2 separate regions of the Homo sapiens genome follow, and region 2 is linked to region 1. Evidence: fine-mapped expression QTL. A gene starts in region 1. The other region holds a variant in brackets. All regions are shown on one strand. Distances are between the middles of the regions.

The links. PIP is the estimated chance that this variant, and not a neighbour inherited with it, causes the effect.
Region 2: its variant is fine-mapped to the expression of ANKRD44 in whole blood (INTERVAL, PIP above 0.99).

Annotation. Positions count from the first base shown.
Region 1 is chr2:197,306,425-197,318,112 of GRCh38, reverse strand. It overlaps ANKRD44 (ankyrin repeat domain 44), which reads left to right and starts at 7,333. Exons shown (of 28, transcript NM_001195144.2): 1 at 7,333-7,535. The coding sequence starts at 7,509. It overlaps ANKRD44-DT (ANKRD44 divergent transcript), which reads right to left and starts at 7,047. Exons shown (of 4, transcript XR_923750.3): 1 at 5,415-7,047; 2 at 3,796-3,924; 3 at 3,629-3,644. RefSeq lists silencers at 7,018-7,097, 7,108-7,427, 7,478-7,857 and enhancers at 7,981-8,482, 8,934-8,993, 9,924-9,973, 10,554-10,633, 10,674-10,723.
Region 2 is chr2:196,983,282-196,994,969 of GRCh38, reverse strand. It overlaps ANKRD44 (ankyrin repeat domain 44), which reads left to right. Exons shown (of 28, transcript NM_001195144.2): 27 at 1,296-1,387; 28 at 5,321-8,308. The coding sequence ends at 5,379. Among named protein-coding and RNA genes, the nearest start is that of PGAP1, 62 kb to the right of the region's middle. The variant A/GTA (reference allele first, on the strand shown) is at 5,461.

The DNA.
Region 1 (11,688 bases):
TATGAGGAATTGCTTAAATAGTCCTGTTTAATATGGGGAATTGTTTAAATAGGTGTTAGAGGACTGAAAAAACAAAAAGGGAACACAGAGATAGTAACTTTAAGAAGCAGCTACCACCAGTAGGGCTGGGAACAATGGGAAAAGGTTAGTTATTAGAACGAAAAGCTTGGAAGAGAGGCCCTTTTCTTCTCTTCATATCTTCACTCCTGAAGGGTCTGAATCCATTTTTTAATCCTTTTAAAAAATTATAGTAGCTTCCATCAACTTTTATTATAGGATATGGAAGTGCTAAGGGGTACCACAGAAAATCCAGAACATAGTCCTTCCTGTCCCAATCGTCCTCCCTGTCCCCATCGTCCTCCCTGTTCCCACTGTGTTGTAGCAAACCAATTTCCTCTTGATAATGGGAATCAGTAACCCCACCCAGAAAGGTAACCCCTGCTTTTCCTGTTGTTTCCATAGCATGTGGAACCGAAAGTGGACACATCCCAGTCTTAGCTTCTAATTCAATGAAACCATAATTGTGATCCCTGGTGGGAACCCTCCCTTGGGAAGCAACACCCCCAAACCAGCAGAGCTCAAAGCAAAACAGGCACTGGAAGCAAAAACTGTATGAGTGGATTATTGGGTGTAATGATGAAAAGAACCACTTCTACTACAACCACCACTCCCTTCTCCCTCCCAGCCCCACCCTTGATTCTTGGACCTTGTATTTTGGGGGAAGCAGTACTATGTACTGACTCCTGACTCAAAGCATTTTCTGTGTCCTCCAAGAGGTAACTTCACTATGTTAGTGTGGTGTTTCCCAGCTGGTGCTGGAACTCAGTCTTCAGTAGAACTCCATCATCCTTCCAGGTGAGCTGCTTCTGGCTGATGAGGTATTGATAAGACTGGTAAATTCCATTTACATGAGTCCTTTGCTGCATTTCTTTTGCCATGAGATGAGTTCCTCAGAAAGAAGTAATATTGTGTAGACTATATAACAGTGAGTAAGATACAACATAAGTCATGGATGGTAGTTCTGTCAGAAACACTCTCTGGGCCGGGCATGGTGGCTTATGCCTGTAATTCCCGCACTTTGGGAGGCGGAGCAGGCAGATTACCTAAGGTGAGGAGTTCTGAGACCAGCCTGGTCAACATGGTGAAACCCCATCTCTACTAAAAATGTAAAAATTAGCCAGGTGTGGTGGCGCATGCCTGTAGTTCCAGCTACTTTGGAGGCTGAGGCAGGAGAATCACTTGAACCCCGGAGGTGGAGGTTGCAATGAGCCGAGATCATGCTACTGCACTCCAGCCTGGGCAACAGAGCCAGACTCCATCTCCAAAAAGAAAAGAAACACTCGCTGGGCACAAATCCATATCAGCTGGGCATGGAGGCTTACACCTATAATCCTAGCACTTTGGGAGGCTGAGATGGGTGGATCACTTGAGGCCAGGGGTTGAGACCAGCCTAGTCAACATGATGAAACCCTGTCTCTACTAAAAGTACAAAAATTAGCTGGGCGTAGTGGCACACTCCTGTGATCCCAGCTATGCAGGATGCTGAGGTGCGAGAATCGCTTGAATCTGGGAGGCAGTGATTGCAGTGAGCTGAGATCACGCCACTGCACTCCAGCCTGGGCAACAGAGCAAGACCCTACCTGAAAAAAAAAAAAAAAACAAGAAAGGAAAAGAAAACAAATTCATATCCACAATATGTGTCTACTCTAGTGAAGACAAGTAACTGTTCCCTCCATGAAGGAAGGGTTCCAAAATAATCAATTTGCTACCACATGGCTGACTAGTCTCCCTTGGAAATGGTGCCTCTCAATGTGTGATTTCTGATGTTGTCAGATATCAGCCTTACTGCAGAGAAGCCTAAGATTTGAAGCCCAAACATAGTCTTTATTCCTGACTCCATGGCTACTTTGAGCAAGCACTGCAATAGGTGGAGAAAGAGGCCCACTCCACCGAATGTGTCATTCACCTAATTACTAAAAGCCTTCTCAGAGTAGATGCTCTGTGGTGAGCATTCACATGGCACACAAATTCCTCACACTTTGTGCCTATTCTGAAAGGTGCACCCACAAACCTCTTTCCCGGACCACCTCATCTTTCCAAGTTGCTGACCATTCAGCAAAACCATCAATAATTGCCTGTGAATGAGTGTAGATCTATACCTTTGACCGTCTCTCTCAATCCAGACAAAGTAGACCCTAGGTGCGCTGCTGGAAATTTCTTGCACTGAGAAAATTTCCCTTCAGTACTGTCATCGGGGGCATTCCTTATTGAGACTGTGATGCTGGAATAGACCACTTCCAGCTTGTGCCAGTATATTTAGGAGAACTGTCTGTAAATCAGTTAACTGGTCTTAAGAAATTCCCCATGAAGTTGAAGATAAGGAGGCACCAGGAGTAAGTATCAAAGGAATCTGAGCTACCTGCTAAGGCAACTTGTGCTTTCTGGACCTGCTTAAGCTCAGTCTCTTACATACCATTTCCATTTGATGAGGAATTCCTCTTGTGTATGTCTGGTCTTATGGATTGGTAGATTAGATTACACTCAGTTCATAATGGGCAGCTGAGCTTGCAGTCACTTGATTGTCTCATGGCCAGTCATTCAAATTCACTTAGCAAGCTAGGGACCATTCCTCAAATAGAAAATTGTTATCTGCAGAAGAGGGCATGACTTGCTCTACAACTAAGGAATTCTGCATTGTAGATCTAATCAGGGCTCACCAGAGGCTCTATATAGCATCCTTATTTGCCACAGACACTTTAAGTATCATTGGATTCCTCTGGGTCATCAAGTCCTGCTACAGATATTTCTTCTCCCCTTATTCCTAATAAAAAATTCCAGCCTTATGGGTTGCTCTATAAATGGGTCACAGCATCACACTCAGATGTGATACATATTGCCTCTAAAATCCAAGGATACCCAGAAAGTATTGTGTCTCTTTTCTTAGTGGTAGATGGTACAAGGTGAAGTAATTTGTCTTTTACGTTGGGGAGAATATCCTGGTGTTTTCTAGACCACTGGACCTCCAGAAACTTCACTAAGGTGATGAATTTTCTTGGGGTTTATACCCAATCTCTGGCTCACATGTGTGTTGTTAAGGCAGCTAAAATATTTGTTACTTCCTGTTTATCAGGGCCAGTCAGCTCGATGTCTTTAACATAGTGATCAAGACCTGTGCAGATGAGATTATGCCAGAGAGTGGGAGTGTTTACATCCCCTAGAGAAGACTGTAAAGGTGTACTGTTGATCTTGCCATATAAAAGAAAACAACTTTTGGTGAAAATTGAAATAGATAAAAAGCATTTGCCATATCAATAGTGCACACCAGGTGCCTAGGGCTGAGTTGCTTTGTTGCGGTAAAGACAGCATATATAGAATAGCAGCTGCAACTGACATTACCATTTGATTAAGTTTACAACTTAATAACAAATCATAGTTATTCTCTAAGATCTTTTGCATAGGCCCAACAGGTGAGTTAAATGGAGATGTGACAGTATTATCATTCCTGTATCTTCTACGTCTTTTCTGGTGGTACCAATTTCTACATATTTCCAGGGATTGAGCATTGTTGTTGGTTTTCTATTCTGGTATCAAGAGGAAATTCCAGAGGCTTCCATTTGGCCTGTCTTACCATAATAAACTTCACTCTGTGGGTCAGAGAAATGATGTTAGGATTCTGTTAGTTACTGAGTATGTCTATTCTAACTAACAGTTGAGGAGATAACTATAGTTTGGGTCTGCAGAGCTACTGGATCCACACTGATTTATACTTAGTTAAAAATTTCATTTATCACCTACCATAGATCCCCATTTTGATTGGTGGATCCAGTGGTGTTTGCAATCCTCAGGAATTAGCATTAATTCAGAAGCAGTGTCAGTGATCCCTCAAATGTCTGGGTATTTCCTTTTTCCCAGTACTCGCTCAGCCTAGAAAAATACATCAGGTTCCTTTGGATAAGGCTTGGATGAGGATTTGTAGTATATATTTATGACAATGCTGCAAGACCCTCCTGAAGGGGACCAGCTTCCCTTTTAATCAAGGAGCTCTGTGTCTGTGAACTCATTTAGGTACGGAAACTGAATGAAAGATAATTTCATTTTGATGGCTCAAGGGAGCTTTCAGGTGGCAGATGTAGAGTTTTGTCTGTTATAAAGATCAATGGCTATTTCCAAAGTCTGCCCGTCTATTTCATTCCTAGGACAACCTAGGGCACTGCCAGATATACCTGTAGGTTAAGACCTTTAAGTACTACTTTGTCTCTGCTGTCCATTACAGTAAATGTGTCCACCTTGTCTCTGCCAGCTAAGTGCTGCCACTTGGCCATTGCTGTCGCAGGATCCCACTAATATAAAAATCAAGGAGCCATCTCAACGAAAGCATCTCCCACCATCATATCCAGCTACTAGAGAGTTTTTCTGACGTTCTCTCTCGAATGTATTTTTCTTTCCTTTTCTTTTTTTTTCTTTTTGACAGAGTCTTGCTTTGTTGCCCAGGCTGGAGTGCAATGGCGCGTCATTGGCTCAGTGCAACCTCTGCCTCCTGGGTTCAAGCGACTCTCGTGACTCAGCCTCCCAAGTAGCTGGAACTACAGGTGCATGCCACCACGCCTGGCTAATTTTTTGTATTTTTAGTAGAGACGGGGTTTCACCATGTTAGCCAGGCTGGTCTGGAACTCCTGACCTCAGGTGATCCACCTGCTTCAGCCTCCCAAAGTGCTGGGATTATAGGCATAAGCCATGGTGCCTGGCCTGTATTTTTCAATGCTTCAGTATAAAGATCATCATCTGGCTCTCCAGGAATATGTAGGGGTTGGCTGTACAGATTATACATGATAAAATTATTCCAACATTCCCATCTCCACAAATCTTTGGATTTCTTTCTCTACATTATACCAGGGGCATTCTGGCTTCTCAAGCTCACCGAATATAGTCAACTGCTGAGTCTGAGTCTCATTTAATGAAGTAAACAAAGTGTTTGAATCACTGTCAAAGTACTGGCTAACACATTAAAAGCAGACCTTCTGATAAGTGTAGTCTTATCAATAAATTTTGCCAAATCTTCTGCTCCCTATTTTATTTGGAACTTGGCCACGAGTTGTTCAACCTTTCACAAAGTCAGGTCACCTATGACAACACCAATCTTGATATTTGAATTCCTAACACTATATGTTCACATCTGTCTGCATTTGTAATTCTCTCATTCACAAAGCCTCTCCATATAGGTGGAAGCATCTTACTGCTTTGTTTTGTCAGAAGACAAAGAGAGTTGTGTTTTACCACTTACCTACTGAAATACATATTCATTATAAATTACTCTCCTTTAATTTTTCCTTTATTGTACAATTAGGACAATATATTGTTGCTGGTTTTTTTTTTTTTGAAATTTGTATTGGTAGGTAATATTATCCACAAATTACCTTTCAGGATAGTAAGGGGAGTGTTAAAGATACTAGTTACAAAAAGAGGATGATGGTCTGATTGGGTGGAGAACTGCTGCCTCCTCACTTTGGCCCCAGGAACTTAGGTGCAGGCATGTCCGCGATGAATCAAATTGGATCTTGAGTGAATCTTCCAAATTAAGTCATTTGTTATCACTCTTCTGAAAGATGGCTCTATTTAAGTAGAGAATGCAGGGTCCTATTCAGTTTACTTACAAAGCCATGCAGGGTGTTCAGTAAATAGACATACCAATAACAGCAGTGAAGAACTGACTCATAGATGCAACATAAACAATCTGTTGTATGTCTGAGAAAGGCCTTAGAATTTTTTGTTTGTTTGTTTCCATGCAACATTGATAACAGAGGAGTGGAAGCCAGGAACAAAGTTCCTTGGTTCTTCTTGTCTGCATGATCTGAATTATAATCTATAAGACTAATAAAGGTAAATTTGAGATTTAGCTGCTTCGACAACCAGAGTGGCTGGATGGTAAATGTGAGGATATTAATGCTCCTTTCTCTCCTGTCTCATGTGGAATCTTTGGGGGAGGTTCTAAGAGTAGGGAGGAAGAATGGACATTTGGTTTGTGAATATACAGTAGAGGCAGATGTTTGGTCTTGACCAAAGAATTCTGTAGCTCTAGTTTGCTCTTCAAAGCTGTTCAATGCTGCCCTACAGGTTTGCTCTATGGCCTGCCAGGGGCACATGGGGCTGCCTGGGAGCACTTCCTCTCCACTTGCTTACTTAATTCTCCCTTCTCCAGATCTCAACTCCTGTCACTTTCTCAGGGAAGCCTGCCCTCACCCACCAGTCTGGTCTGATTCCTTTGTTGTGGGTTCACTTCAGAAGCATGTTTTCCCTTGAGATCCCTTATCTCAGTTTGTAATTACATTCATTAGCAGAGACTATGCGGTTTATGTTGGCATCTTCTGAGAGCAGGTTATCTTATTTATGCTCTCCGTTTATTCCCGTGCCTAGCCAGTGCCTGACAAGGTAGGGACTCAGTACATAGCTGTTCAATGAATAAGTGTTTGCTCCAAATTCCAGAACTATCAACAGCTACTATGCTTACGAATATGCCCGTTGTATCTGTAGCCCATGGTGTTTGACAGCTGTCTTCTATTTGTTGAAGAGCTTGGTAACTTGGGATTTTGTAGAGATCAGTAAGGACTGGTGGGAACACCCAAAAGACCCATCAACTCGGTGATTTAGGACTGCTTTGCTTCTCCAGGAACTCCACTCCACCCCCACCAGCAAAAACCAAACCCAGGGTGTTTGAATTTAACAATAGTATGTGTGTGTGCATATGTGTGTGTGTGTTTAGCTGGAAAGTGGCTGGAGAACAAGGTGGAAGGGCCAGAGCTTCTGTTCCCTCCACCCATAAATGTTTGGCAAACACCCTGTAAAGAATCACAATGTGTCCGCTGCCTCCTGGCATTAAACAAAGGGAGCATCATAATTGCGGTCCCTGGGATCTTCGGGGCGCTGCCACCACCTGATTCTGGGTTAGGGGAAGGGGGCGTAACCCCATCTCCCCGGTTAAAGTGGACGGCATGTGAGTGAGAGCCTTTCCTGCCCCCTCGGGGTGTGTCCCCGCGGGCTTCCCCACCCATATGTGTGAGACCCGTCAGGGAGGCCCGCGATCCGCCCAGGGCCCGGGGCCGGCCCGGCCGGGCGCCGCGTGCAGGTGCGGAAGGCAGGCGGCGGCCCGGTGCGGGCGCGGGGGCAGCGCCGGGGGCCGGGCTGCGCGGCTCGGCTGCGGGCGGCAGGAGGCAGCGTCGGCCCAGGCGGCGGGCGGCGAGCGAGCCAGCGCGCGGTGATGTCAGTGGCGGCCCGGCTGGCAGCAGCCGGTACTTCCTGTGGAAAGGCGGGCGGGCTCGGCTGCAAACCCCACTAGCCAGTGTCAGCCTCTCGGCGGGAGGAGGCGGCGGCGGAGGAGGAGCAGGGGGAGGGCTGTCAAATTCGGGAGCCAGATTTTTTCCCTTCTCCTGGCAATCCCTTCCGCTTCCCCGGCTCCCGGCGTGACATCTGCGGGCCGGGGACCTGCATGTGTGTGCGCGCGAAGGAGCGGAAGAATGGCAGTGCTCAAACTCACCGACCAGGTAGCGGGCGGCGGCGCCGGCGGGCGGGACGCGCGGGCGCGGGGCGGCGCGGAGCCCGGCGGGGGGATGGGGGCGCGGCTGGAGCGCGCCCGCGAGCTGTTTACTCGCGGCGAAGGGGAGGACTGTGTGCGGCCGCCGGTGCCTCCGAGAGCCCGCGGCGGCAGCTCCCCTCCGCCGCGCCGTCCCCGCCCTGGGCCGTCGGAACTGCGCGCCCGAGTCTGGGGCAGGGCCCGTGGGCGCTGGGCAGCCGGCGTGCGGGAGTGCGGCGGCCGCGGGCCCGGCGGGGCTGGGGAGGGGGCCGGGGGCTCGAGGTGCTCTCGGGACTCGCACCGCGCCGCGTTGCGTGGGCGCCGCCGGCCCGGGCCCCGGGGAGGAGGACGCTGCACGAAGAGGGAGAAAGGATCGCAGACTGGGACCCCTCCCCAAACCTAGCAGGAGTCCTGCCCAGAATGCGGCTCTTGTGTGGCCGGGCTGTCTTTATTTATCCGTTGGATGTGACATCCGACTTCCTCTTTAGTTGCGCCAGGCTGTGTGCGTGGTGCGGGATGGGGACCCCTGGAGACCGCCCTTTCGGATCGGGCCGGTCCCTCTGAGGAGGAGGTGAAGTCGGCTCGGAGCCTCCACTCACAGGCGGTGGGCTACGGTCTGCCTGTGTCTACCAGCTTTGTTGGCTTTCCTTGCTGAGACACCACACAGGGCAGCTCTGGAGTCCTGGCTTGGAGAGGTGGGGTTATTTGCTGAATCGGATTGACAGTCCTCGCCGCAGGTCTGTGGAATGGTAACAGCCACCTTCGCGGACTCTGCTGCTCTTACATTGACACTAACAGGCACCAAACCAAGTTGCATGACAAAACTCTTTGCAGCTCTTTCCACGAAAAAAGGAAACGGCTTGCTACCCCCACCCCCGTTTATTCGTGGGTAGTGAAAGGAACTTTGTTTTGGGGTCCTGGTAGGCAGAGAGGCAATCTTGACTTTGACTACAGGGTCAGACTTGCCAGCCCTTGGTATTAAATACCTCAAACTTGTCCATGGGTTGCATCTGCTGCCTTGCGTTCTCCAGTTAGTATCCAGCCAGAACATCTTGCAACTGAAGTGCAGTCCGTCACCACAATGATTTGCAATGATTTGTTCTCCTGCCTTTTAGATTCAATTTTTTTAGCTTGTTTTTCCTAAATATTTACAGGTGTTTGGCGGGGTTGGTGATGGGGAAATCACTGAGTTAAAATTCATGTTATTGTTAAATTTAGTAAGAAGAGCAGCTGGTACTTGTGATGAATGTATTTGTTCTCATTGGTTCCAGAGCATTTAAAAGTGTAAGTTGATATCAGGATTTCCTTCACCTTTTGGTCACATACTTTGCCAACTGTTAGACATTTGCGTATTTTAAATCCTACAGTTTTAGCGTGTCTTGGGCCTGTCATCTTTGCTAGTACACGTTGCTGTACTTGTCTGTTAATCCCTAGATCTTCAAAGTACAAAGAATGGTTCTAATAGGTATTGTTATCACATATAAGAAAGAACATCACATAGAAGTTTAGAGTTGTAAGGACTCTAAGGATGATCTAGCCCAAACCCTTCATTTTCTAAATGACAAAACAGATCTGGAGAAGTGAAGCAAGTCTTCCTCAAAGAATGCCAGCTATAGGCCTGCAGGACTGGGACTAGCTCTTGTCTTCTGCCTTCCAGGTGCTTGTACTTTCTGCTACAGTTGGTATAGGATAGCTCCATCATCTCATTGGATGTGTTGTAAGGGTTACAAGAAAACATCTCTTCCTAGATCAAGATCAACCCTAGTGAGAAGTGTATTACTTGGTCTTACAAAGAGAGGAAGTTATTCTTCAGGGCTTATCAGAGCAGGAATTTCAAAGATGTTGCCTTTTAAGATGTTTCCAAGTATATTTCCTTCCTTCCCCCAATAAACTAGTATGAGTATGGAGAGAAAGGAAGAGTCACACAACGTTTATTTGGTTCCATCTCCAGATACGTAAAAAGAACCTAAGGCGTTTTAAGATTCAAGAACTTCTGAAAATGTCCAGTCTATCTTGGGACAAAGTCAGAAGGAGATGGGGTGGGGAAGTGGCCTGGGTGGGGTGGGGTGGTGAACAACGATGGTTTCTGTGTAGCTTTAGGTCCAGGAAGTAAGTGTGTGGTCTTTCTTGCCTTATATAGTCTTACCTTTTCTGTTTGAGACTCAATTCTTAGAAGTCAGTTCTTAACCTCACAGATTAACTTTTAAAACCATTTGCTTAGACCACTACTAGAAGAGTTTTGCTCCATCATTGTGGGCAGGGAGCCGCCCGCCTGCTTGGAATCCCTGCCTTAGAGTTTGTACAGGAGTACCTTGCTCTCCATTCAGCTTCTAGTAAAACAACCACTTCTTAATTTCTCCCTCCTTTTTTTTTTTTGTGTGTGTGTGTGTGTGTGTCAGGGTCTCACTCTGACTCGATAGTATGATCATGGCTCACTACAGCCTTGGCCTGCCAGGCTCAAACATCCTCCCACTTCAGCCTCCCCAGTAGCTGGGACTATGGGCGCGTGTGCCACCACACCTGGCTAATTTTTGTATTTTTTGTAGACACAGAGTTTCGCCATGTTGCCCAGGCTGGTCTCAAACTCTTGGGCTCAAACAGTCCACCTGCCTCAGCCTCCCAAAGTGCTGGGATTACAGGCATGAGCCACTGTGCCTGGCACCTCATCTGTTGAATGCCCTATTTGTGAAGTGAATCTTGATTTTTGCTAGGCCTCTTGGATTTTTTACTGTTGATAACCTGAAACACAAATTGTCTGGATTTGTCTTTAAATGTGGCAAAAGTCAGGGGTGACAGATGATGACATTTTCTCTCCAGCTAAAGCTGGGTGCAGGAGCTTGCTAGGTGAAGCAGACACTACTTCAGCAGTCAGTCCTGTAGTGACCTCTCAATCTTGTAAGAGAAGGAAAATGTTTTTTCCTAACTCTTTTTTTTTCAGGAGAGTAAAAAGAAAAAGGGAGAGACCAGTGTAATTTTTAGTCTTTTTTTTTTTTTTTTCACTGTAAAAAAGGAACTGGGAGCTATCACTACAAACAAACAAACTTGGCATTTAGCACTTCTGCATTTGTAACTTTTGTAACAGTGTCCCTTCTGTTTTCCTCTTCACAGGGCACACATAATTTTTATTGCAGCCTTAGGGGGCACTAACCATCCTGGTTTGTGCAGATTGACTGGTGTCCCAGCATATGGGGCTAAAACCGGGAAAATTCCAGGCAAACTGGGAGGAACTGGTTACCCTGTGTAACATAGAACATCCTCAACTATGTCATTAATATAATAATGTAATTAGTTCCTTGTATGTGGACATTAGGAGTTTTATATTTTTTGGTAAAGTGAGATAATTTTAAGTTTGGGAAAGAAAATTTTGTTAAATACAGATCTAAGGCATTTGACTCAAAGATAGCCATGAAACCTTTTTGAAAATTGATTTGATATTGACTGTTTTAGGGTGTTCTTTATGTCATATAGTTAAAGGCACTGTAGTCATTTTAAGTGTGTGGTCGTATCTTCAGCCTGGATCTCTACCCGAAATTTATTTTCAGAGTTATGAAGCTAGGATGGTAAGTTCTGTTGCATGTTTAAAGTGTCCACTATTCTTACCTGCATTTGTTAATGATGGCAGAACACTACTTTCATCTCGGAGGCTGCCTGCAGACAAACTGTTTCAGCAGGTGGCCTTTTTGGAGCTTCCTGCCTGGAGGCCTTCTGGTTTGGTGTTCCCTTGCCAAGTCCTAGTTCACACTTGAGTCACCTACCTTCTTGCCAAAGGCAGTGGCTGGCAGCGGTGGCAGTGGCAAGAGACTAGAAATCCTGTGTAACTTTGGGAGCAGGATTTCTAGCCCATAGTGTGGGGCCTTGGGACGTGTTACATATTTTACTGGGCTGCCCTTGTTCTTCCATGGCTCCCTAGAGCACTGGTGTTAAAGCAAACAGTATGCTGTAGTCCTGTCTTCAGCATAGAAGAAGGGAAAAGAAAGGCTTTATTTAGAACCTTTTCTGGTTGTTTCAGGACCCAATCACATGGTTTTGAGAGTGCACTTGAGGCTGGTGTTTCATGGCAGAGACCTAATAATGTCACACATTTATTGTGCTCTTATTGTATACTGGGCCTTTGCAGTGAATCA
Region 2 (11,688 bases), 320 kb after region 1:
CTAAGCTATTTGTCTTGATTATATTTTAATATAATTCAGTGTAACCCTTGGTGTGAAAGATCTAAAAGCTGTTTCATTTTCCGCTTTAGGAAATTATTTATGCATTTGTTTTAAAGGCAAAGGAATTTTTTTCATTTAAGATTCTTAAGCCGGGCGTGGTGGCTCATGCCTTTAATCCCAGCACTTTGGGAGGCCGAGGCAGTTGGATTACTTGAGGCCAGGAGTTCATGACCCGCCTGGCCAACATGGTGAAACCCCGTCTCTACTAAAAATACAACAACAACAAAATTAGCTGGGCATGATGGTGGGTGCCTGTAACCTCAGCTACTTGGGAGGCTGAGGCAGGAGAATCACTTGAACCTGGGAGGTGGAGGTTGCTGTGAGCTGAGATCGTGCCACTGCACCACTCCAGCCTGGGCAACAAGAGCGAGACTGTCCCCCCACAAAAAAAAAAGAAAAGAAGAAGAAGAAGAAGAAGACTGTTGGCTGGGTGTCGTGGCTCATGCCTATAATCCCGGCACTTTGGGAGGCTGAGGCAAGTAGATCACTTGAGCCCGGGAGTTTGAGACCAGCCTGGCCAACATGATGAAACCCCTTCTCTACAAAAAATAAAAAAATTAGCCAGCCACAGTGGTTTGCACCTGTAGTCCCAGCTACACAGGAGACTGAGGCAGGAGAATCACTTGAGCCCAGCAGAAGGTCAAGGCTGCAGTGAGCTGTGATCGTGCCACTGCACTCCAGCCTGGGTGACAGAGTGAGACCCTGTCTCAAAAAAAAAGAAAAAGATTCTTAAGCAGTATATAGCACAATATACTGAGTTTGACATAATTCTTTAAGGTATTATAAATTCAGTAAAACATCTGTGTGCATTTAGTAGTAACAAGGAAGTTTGAAATTATACATATATATGACTGATATTAATGCCAGTCATATTGTTGAACTGTGTGAAACAGTGATTCAAATGCTGTGTTAGAAATCAAGCAGTAAAGGGCCTTCTGCAAAACACAACAAAGCTTGAGTTCTTCCTCTGTCTTCGTATTTACTGTCATTGAGATTGTTTGAGATGCAGAATATTTGTAATATCTGCAGCAAGATCTGGGCCAAACATACAACAACAGTTGGACCATTAGCACCTGGAAAAGATCTGGTCAGCATTTTTTTTTCTTAAGTAAAAACATCCATGTACTATTTGTAGAGTCTAAGTACTTCTTCCTTTTAGTGACATGGGCTAACAAAAATTCCACATTCTCACCCAAATATGTATCACAACTGATGCTCGGTCTTGTGTTTTTTAGACCCCTCCACGTCGCTGCGCGCAATGGCTTAAAGGTGGTAGTTGAGGAGTTGCTGGCCAAAGGGGCCTGTGTACTTGCTGTAGATGAAAATGGTAAGTGGAAAAAGTCAACAGCGACTGCAGGTACCTTCCATAAGCTAGTTGAAGCCAGAGGAAATGAGAAAGATAGGAGCTAGTATAAAAGGCACTTAAGAATTCTGTCCCCCTTGGAAGTCCTGTGTGTGAGAAATCAAGCAAGGATAACTTGTCCTGTCTGTCTTTTTGTAAATCACATAGTCTACCTGTAGGCCACCCAGTGCTGTCCATTTTGCATGTAATGCCAGCAGCTGGTCTCTAACTCCTCAGCACAGTGGTTAAAATATCTTAGACACACTAAGAGTTTCAAGTTGACACTCAAAATTTTAACTGCAAATGCTGAAGAGTTAGGGACTACACATGTCATTAATGCATGCTCAAGGGCTCAAATAAAAACCTGGATCTTTGATTGTATTTAAGTTCATTCTGAGATCAAACTTTTTTTTTCTTTAAGTACAGATCAGAACTCATATTCCCAGTATGGAAATGTGAGGAACAAGAGTAAAATTTCTTAATTAACGTCTAGGCTTGAAGCTTCCCCTGATCTGTATTAATGTTCCTTTCCTAATGAACTAATTCTTAACAGAAGCTTTCTACTCTGCTTCCTAAGAAATTTTGAAAGGAATGGCTACTAGAATTGTACTAAACTGCCATTTTAAGCACAATGCCTATTAACCTTGGGGAGCAAAAAAGGAACTTCTGGATGTTTATGAATTATGTAATTTTTAAAATGTGGCATTTAATTAAAGTATTATAATGTATTAATGTAACTCAATTAACTGCTTATTACAGGTATTGGAATTAGCAGCTCATGCCTATTTCTCAGAAGTAAGCAGCCATACTGATTATCATTAGCTAACTCTTATTAGTTTTGATTTTGCAGCCCCATGTATCCTAGCATGTACCCTGCTGTGTCCCCCACCTGACTCATCTAGGAAGTGCAGAAAGTTCCCTATTACTCCATTTCCTTGGTTTTCCCGCCTCACCTTCCCTCACCCTCTTAACACTACTGTAGACTTAGGGTTGGCCTGCAGAGGCCCACAGTTTTTCTCCAAAATGGTCAAAGAGAATAGAATAAATTAGTTTTGCTTTTCCTGGTGTAAATCTGCTGCATTGAAGGTTTGTTCAGCTGATAGTGACCTTAGGAACAAGAGCCCTGGGTTGGTGCGCACCTGCATCCCAAAGGCCTGGGAACGTTTGGGGCAATTTTATATAGCAGTACAACCATAATTCCTTTACTCATCACTGACTTTCGTGAAATGGAATGTTAAACTACCTGTTCATTCTTATTTGTTTTCATACCAGAAAAAGGAATGATGTCCTAAAGGGCAGGGTGGGGAGAGCAGGTCGAGTGATGATAAACAAAACAACAAAACGTTAAGTTTCATTGAGCCATTCCTCTGAATTACTGAGCAAGTGCCCTACTCACTGTGTAGTGGAAACTTTGGCCAGCTGAGAAGGCAGCTAACCCTTTTCAGGCCAGTAGGATAAAGGTTGGATAAGGAAATAATCAAGTCAAAGACTTAATCTACCTCCCCAAGGAACCTATATTATGAGTTAAGACAGTTTTCTTATCTGGATTGGATCCATTGAGTCTAAATGAGAATAACATGGTTCTAATTATGACAAGCATAGTAATTTTCTCACATCCATTACATTTTAGATTTGAGACTTTGATTGGTGAGTGGCCATTTTTAAATATTCTGTTAGGCCAGGTGTGATGGCTCACGCCTTTAATCCCAGGACTTTGGGAAGCCAAGGTGGGAGGATCGCTTGAGCCCAGGAGTTTGAGAACAGCCTGGGAAACATAGCAAGACCTTGACTCAAAAAAAAAAAACCAAAAAAAGAAAAAATCAGCCGGTAGTAGTGGCACACACCTATAGTCCCAGCTACTCGGGAGGCTGAGGTGGGAGGATTGCTTGAGCCCGGAAGACAAGGCTGTAGTAAAATCAAGGCCCCATGCCACTACAATCCAGCCTGGGTGACAGAGTGAAACTCTGTCAAAAAAAAAATTTGTTAAATTTCTCCTAAATGATTGTACATTTTTAATCACAAACAACCTGTGCTTTCCTGTCTCTGATCTACTGAAATGATTCCATTTTTCTAAAACCAGTTATTGGTGTCTATTTTCTATGAAGCATATATAAAGTGACAAAACTTCATTACTCACTTTTGCAGTCATCTAATTTTCAATATCTTTTCTAATTGGACACACAATTACCTAACAATGGAAAGTCATTGTTCTCAGAATGAGAGTCCTTCTCAGGCCCAGGCCTGAGGCTCATGGTGTGTGTGTGCTCTCAGGCGGAAACATCCTCCTGATTGTCCTGTTGCTGTTTATTGTGGAATTGTGTCCCACACCCACCCCCTTGTGTTTGTGTTCACTAAATGAAGGCTGGAATCCTGCCTAACTTTGGATGATATTGTGCTTGTCATAGTCATATGAGCTGAAAACAAAAATAAAAAGCCCTCCATAAAATGTCTCCCCCTCCCTCCCCCTCTAGCCTCACCCCTAGCATGACTTGTGAGAAGTAACTCCTCGTTTTACCTGGCATGATTTCTAACTCAACATACATCTCCGCCTGTGAGATCATCCGAGATGTACTGTGGAATGCTCGTGCCTCCTCTAGGCTCCCCAGGACTAACCACTGCCTTGTCTGCATTTACGCCCAGGTCATACCCCGGCCCTGGCTTGCGCTCCTAACAAAGACGTGGCTGACTGCCTGGCCCTCATTTTGGCTACCATGATGCCTTTTTCTCCTTCCAGTACAATGATGGCTGTCAACTTCGTTTGTTTAAAAAAAGACAATTTGAGCAGGACGACCCTCTCCAATCTGGGTAGCATGGTTAGCCTGTGCAGTAACAACGTAGGCTCGGAGGATGGGTACAATGAAAATGATTCTGATTCGGAAACGTTTTGACTTTGGACTGTAGAAGCTTTTCTTTGATCACCTGTGTTGGAGGAAAGGAAAGAAGCTTGAATTCCAGGTTTATGTTGTATTCAAGTATTATTTGGGGCCTGGGCTTCCAGAAGCTAGTAGAGAAGGAATTAATCGAGGGAGGGCAGTGAGGCTGTTGGGTGGAACAGTCACACAGATGGCCCCAGTTTTGTTTTGTTTCACATTTTCTTTAAATCTAAGATACTTCTGTGAAAGTCTACCTCTCATTTTAAATAAAGAATAAAAGATGTATTTAATTCCTGTTCTTTGGGGATAATGCAGCAGAGAGGCAGCTGTTCGCTATGAATAATTTTTCTTTTCATGTATTTAGCAGTGAGTTCTCAGAAGTATATCAGTGTGACATTCATGTCCCCTGGGAGGGAAGGGAAGAGGCAGATAGGAAATGCCTCAAACTTCTTCTCACTTTGATGTTTACTTCCTCACTAGAAGCCAAAGGTAAAGGTGTCCATCTTCAGAAATAATGCCTGTAATAATCTTTTTAGAGAGTCCAACTATTTATATCCTCTCTATAGTAAGCATTTGAATATCCAGAACTTCTTTCTGAGGATCTCTGTTAAAGTTGCCAGATGAATTGAAAAATTGAACTTGCTTTTTTTGTTTAACACAGTGTTCCCTATAACAAGCCTGTGACTAATTTTCACTTAAGTGATTGAACCCAAATTTATCTAATAACATTTCAGGTGAAAATTATATTGCACCAAAACTTTGACACAATATGCAAAAATAGTATGAAACTACCCTTTGTTAATTTATTCTTAAATCAAAATACTAACTTTTAAAAAACATCAGAATCATCAGCATTGTTCATCAGTAGTAAAATGAGCTTCTCAGTCAAGGTCATACCAAGTCAGTGAAAAGTGTGACTGCAAAAAGGAACAAAAAAAGTGAAAGCAGAAAGTAGAAATGGGTGATTTAGCATGTAAAACCGATTGCCAGTTGCTTGATGATGAAATCAACATAGTGAATACTGTGTCTGCTCCCTCTGCCAAAGCTTCTAGGTCAAATGGACCCCGTTCCACACCTGGAACCGCTGTACAAAAAGAAGAATGAGACTCTTTAAAAATTATGCACATACACATGCACACATATATGTGTGCGTGTGTATATATATATATATGTGTGTGTGTGTGT[A/GTA]GTTCATCAGCCAGCTACACATGAGGACCAAAATGCTTCAGTCTAAAATGGAAGATACACATTTTTTTCCTTCAAAATGCAAGTGAGAACTGAAGTAGCTTTTTTATGGAGTTAAATGTAATCTTTCTGTGTACCAGTCTTTGTTGTATTTTATATTTCTTAGGACACAGATTTCTAGTTGACCACTTAACATTTGTAACTGATGATGTGCTGACCTTTTTTTTTTTTTTTGCCAAACTAGAGAAAATGTCCATATACTTTTGCTGTAAATGTGTTTATATTTATTTGAAATGAAACAAATGGTGAGGAAACATCCATTATTTGTTCTCTATTTTAATTGCTATGTATCTTATTTAGAATAACAAAAAAAAAGTGAAAAAAAAAACACTTGACCCTGGGCTAGCCAAAAGCCCAAGGGCCAAACCTAGCATTTCCACTGCTAAGGTTTCCAGATGACCCTCAGGTTCTTCCGCGTTGGTTAGAGAGGGCTACGCATCTTCTACTGCTCAGCCACAGTCTGTAGCCAGCTTAGAGCTTAGAAGACATTGCAGTCTGGATGCCCTTCTGCGAGATGAAAACTCAGATGTGTAGTGGATCATATACACAAAGGCAGCACAAAGAAATATCTAGAAATTACCCTAAGTACACTGAAAAGCTCACATAGTCTCAGTAACCTGATGAGAAATGATGGCAGTGTGTGGGCACATGTGCCAAAAGGAGAAATAAAAATCACCAGCTCAAGTGCTATTTTCTACTTGAGGAAGAGACAGAAAAGAAATGTGTCGAATTAGAGCAGTACTCTCTGACGTTTTATAATGAGTTCCATTTCCACCCTGGAAATTGCTATTTTATAGTGTATGTGAGATATTTCAAAAATAATGTTCTATCATATCTGGATCAAAGACAGATAACTGTATTATATTTTTCATCTAGCTATAAAACTTTAATCTTACTCTTAATATCCTGGATTTAATTAAAACTCCTGTTGGGTTCTTCACAAATGAGAACTTGTTCAAAGGATTTATTGAACTGGTATTGATTTCACTGAAAATTTTCCACACCACCACCATTGTTTTTTTGAATTCTTGGTGTTGTGCTTCCCACCTTCTGTCCTTTTCGTTTGTTTAGAGAAGATGAATTTTTAAAAAGCAGATAAATTGCTAATGAGCAATAATGACCTTATCTTTACCAAAACACTGAAAATTAAGAGAGGTTCAGTGTTGAAGAAGCACAATATGCTGCGGTGTCTTTTTCTAGAAGTGAATGGAAATCTTGCTCAGTTGGCATTTCAAGCAGGAAATGAAATGCTTGCTTTAATGGCAAAGCAGCGTTAACATTTTTCCTGTCGTGTAGCAGAGAGTACAAGAATCATTTCAGCAAAGCAGTGACTCACCATGAGACGTTATCTCCATGGAGCTGCGTTTTGACTTTTCCCACTCTCTTACTCATAGAAGGAGGACAAAGGAACGAAATGAAATCATGCTCACAATGAACTGTTCATTACATCAACTGATCTCTCTCTCTCTCTCTTCCTCTCTTTCTCTTTCTCCCATACCCCAAGGCAAAATTTTTTTAAAGAAATGACTTTAAAAACTATCATTTCTGTATTTTAATTACATCTCTTAGAAATAAAATTATGTTTGCACCATAGCTTTCTAAGAAAAAAAAATGTGTTTTTAACTGAGTCTTAGTTGCTTAGTGCTTTTATTTGTGTTATTTTTAGACTGTATTTTAACCACAACTACAAGGATCATGTTTCATTGCACTTACTTATTTGCCAGTGTCTGCCTGTCTTTGCTAAATACATTACTATCTCCAAATTGCCTAAAATCTGCTATGATTCTACAGTAAATAGCTCAGGGTATTTCTATTTATCACTACTAAAAGGGCACCATAGTATGTTTTGGTACTTTAGGCAGTAAACACTGCTTGGTTTATCATTTTGTTATTAAATTAGAACAAGAACATCAAATGGATTTGCTGCACTAGTTATTCTTTGTACTGTTGAGCAACTTGGTGTGCTTATATGTTGTGTTGGTTGAAGAACTCATCCGTTTTATTGTCTTGTAATATGAAGTTAGAGTGCCTTTTTATATTTGTATATTCTGAAAATGTTCTGTGGAATGTTTTGTATTTTTTCATTTGAGTGTTATCAGAGCAATATGATACCAGTGAGTTTTCATTTCAACTTTTCTTTGAATGTATAAAGTGTCTTTTTTCCTATTTCCCCTTGTACTTGCATTGAAATGAATATGAAAATGCTTAAGTTTTCTATAGGAATTGTTTGATTTTGCAGTGCTAAAATGCTTTCGTCTTACGAAACTATAAACCATAGGTCAGTATTATAGGGGAAAAGCATTTTAAGATAGTGACAATCTGAGTGTTTGTATAAAATGTAATTCTATGCGTTTCTTATGTGATCTAAAAATTCAATGCAAATATCTTTTATTTGGTAGTTTTGTCTACATATTTTATGCTCTAGCATGTGCAATATATCTTTGTAAAGCACGATGATACAAATCTGGTGCCAGTGTTATATTTTGCATAACATATTTGTAACAGCATAAAATATTGTTTGATGATTTCAGTGGGATTTTGTCTATAATGTTTTCTTATGTAAATTGGAGTTGAATGACTCTGGTAAATGTCATGACTGTAAAAATGGGGAAAATGACTTTTAGTTCAGTGAATGACTTTGAAACAATCTGAATCTTCTCAAGCACAGTTTAATACTTTTGCAACTACTGAATGCTCTAATAACGTAATGAAGTACTTAACTGTAATATACTATGGAAATGCATTCAGATGGTTATTTTTACAAATAAAAACGGTACAAATATTGTTGGAATTTGTGTTTTAATTTTTCCAATTTATGCTTTTTCTAAATTATGCTAATTTAAATCTTTGCACCCCCTCAAGCCAAATTAACTTTAAATTTAGAAAATAATCAAGATAAAAGTGTATCTCCAGATTCACGATTTATGTTTGTGTTATCACAATTAGAGAAAAAATTCAAACATATATGCTTGTGTTTATTATATGTATTTATGCTTCCAACTTTTTTCCATAAAGGGTTTTGTTTTGTTTTGTTTTGTTTTGTTTTTTTCTGCTCTGTTGTCCAGGCTGATGGGCAGTTGTGAGATCTCGGCTCACTGCAGCCTCGACCTCCTGGGCTGAAGTAATCTTCCTACCTCAGCCTCCCGAGTAGCTGGGACTACAGATGTGCACCACTATGCCTAGCTAATTTTGTTTTTTTGTAGAGATGGGGTCTCACTATATTGCCCAGGCTGGCCCATAAAGGATTTGAGCTGGGTTATGACAAAAGACGTGATAAACTAGAAATAGAAAAATGAGAACAGAGAAAAAGAATACAAACAGATAAAGGAACCATAAAATTTAAAACAGTATCTGTGACTGAACTTGTGTTTGCTCTCAGCTTCCTTGCAGCCAAGGTAAGAGGAGAAATGTGATCAGTTATATAGTCCACATCAAAAAAGAGGAAGCTTATTAGGTCCTCAAAATTGTGAAATCAACCATGCCTAACTTTGGTATTGTCACCATTACCCTTCAGGGACTTTATAACAACACAAGAACCTCCATCTCTGCACTATCCTTAAAGGTATCCATAGAATTTCCTTCCCCATCTATCTCACCATCCAAAATTTTTCATCTTGAGTAGTAACTTCAGGGACAGTCTCTGGAAGCACTAAGGAACAAATTCCTAATGATGGAGTTTCCAGCTATTGACGAAGAGACTTGGGGGTGGTGCCTGCCTGAGTTCCCCAAATCAAGTAGTATAGAATGTTAGCAGTTATTACAGTCCAGCCCAGTCACATCACCAGCTCTTTCAGGAAGAAACTGAATCCTAGAGAAGTTATACAACTTGAATTTTTGAAGATAGTGATCTGATGATACCACATCTGCCTCTAGATGTTCTCTCTTCGATGCCATCTTGCCATATAATGTTTTGTTTTTTTCTGCCAGAAATGTTAAGGGAGGTTTTGTACTCAGCCCTGCCTCCCTTCTTATTCAAATATACAAATCTGGGTGCTTTTCAATCTTAAAGAATGTAAAACAGGAGTCACACCACAAGTGAGTGCTTCCTGTTGTTTAGAGTAGACTGGGTATATTAGTTATCTATTGCTGTGTAACAAATTACCCCAAAACTTAGTGGCTTAAAACAACAAATGTTTCCTAACCCACAGTTTCTATGAGTCAGCCCTAGTTTAGCTGGGTCTTCTGTTCCAGGGTCTCTCACAGCCTGTAATCATGGTGTTGGCCTGGGAACGATCCATTTCTAAGTTCACTCATATGGTTGTTGGCAGGATTCTTCTCATGGGTTGTTACACTGAGGGCCTCAGTTCCTTGATGGCTGTTGGCTGCCGTCCGTTCCTTGCCAGATGGGCCTTCCCATAGGGAAGCTCACAACATGGCAGCTTGCCTTGCGGGCGAGCAGGCTGAGAAAAGCCAGGGAGACAAAGAGCAAGACAGAGTCACAGATTTTTGCAACTGAATTTCAGAAGTGATATTTCATCATTTTTCTCATATTCTATTCATGAGAAGCAAGTTACTAAGTCCAATCTATACTCAAGGGCAAGGGATTCCCCAAGGGTGTGAACAGCAGGAACAGCAATTACTAGGAGCCATTTTTGGAAGCTACTCGCCACCCTGGTCTATCACGGTGTCCTTTGAGGCTGTAACATCATACTAATACACCTTCTTCCCAGTCATTGCTAAGGAAATTGCTTGCTTGACTGACTGAACTCACCCTTTCAAGGAAAATGTAGAGATCCCTAATTTTAATTGTGTTCTCATAAGCAGAGAAATGTGATAATGGCCTCCACTGTGGTAATTATATTTTTGAACATTGATGTGGCACTTTGTCTTCAAACTGCTTGTCAAAGGTTCCTTCACGCTAATTCCATTTGGTAGGTTTAGATCCCTGTATAAGTATCCCTCACTTAACACACTTAATGTGTTCCAGAATTAGTTTGCAAAGCACAAAAGCATTAAGCTAAAAGGCTATTAACATAAAAACATTGTGGGTAAAAGTACTATATGAATTGTCTCTTTAGCAAATTTCATCCTGAAGGTACATTTGCTGTAAAATATAAAGCACCAAGATAATGGCTGTGCCATTCATTAATTCTCAGGCACTCTAGGGAGTGATTGGAAATGTGTGGGCATTTGTAGTTGGCACAATGGCTGGGGGGTGGGCAGGGCTGCTACTAGAGTATTTATAGTTCCAAGCGCCAGGGAGACCAAATGTGCCACTCAACCCAGGGAATAACTGCGCCACTTAGAATGTCAATGCTCCTCTACCCCACTGCTCACCTATTTGCCTTTCTCTTGTTTCTGAATCATTTCTTCATCAATGTATTGCTTATGACACTAGCCATATTGCCTCATCTATTTTCACAAGGGATTGCATAAACATACTTTATATGCCCTCAGAACGAGAACTTACAAGGTTGAGAAAGAACTTTGGAAGGCAATGCTGAGCACATGTGCCCTGGTTATGTATTTTTCCAGGGGAGAAGATTTGCACAGATCAAGGCATCTTTAATTCCTTTGTTATCAAACCAAAATGTGGCCATACACATGTATATTTCTTGTCTTAAGCAAGAGGTGATTGTATCTACTTTCCCAGTGGGGGGAACTCCTGCTCACAAAGGTGGGGCACTTGGCCCACCGTCACATGGCAAGCTCTGACAACACAGTACTTCAGCCTCACAGGGTTCTCTAGGCACTGGTGGACACAATTTCTAGGATACTATTTTCTGCTTTTAAATGTCAATTTAATGAAGTACTGTGTATTACATTCTGGAAGAATTTTATAATTTTCAAAAGTAAAAATACTGAAGCAGTACTTTTAGAGCACAAAAAGCTTACCTGTGTTTGCATTGAGTTGAAAGTACCCAGCAAATTCGTGAACTTTATTTATATTTTTTATAGTTGGGGTTCCTAAGAATTACTAACATTTAAACTCAGATCCTAACCACAAGAAATTACCAGCTATGCAAAGATCAGAGGAGAGAACATTCTAGGGAGAGGAAAAGGCTAGTGCCAATACCCAAAGGCAGGAATGAGTTTGTTATGTTCTAGGAACAGAAATGGGGCCAGTGTGGCTGGAGACTCAAGGGAAAGGGAGGGTGGCAGAAGATTAACAGCGATCTCAGCCCAGACATAAAATTTTGTGAGCTGGGAGGAGTTTCTATATTTTTCTGA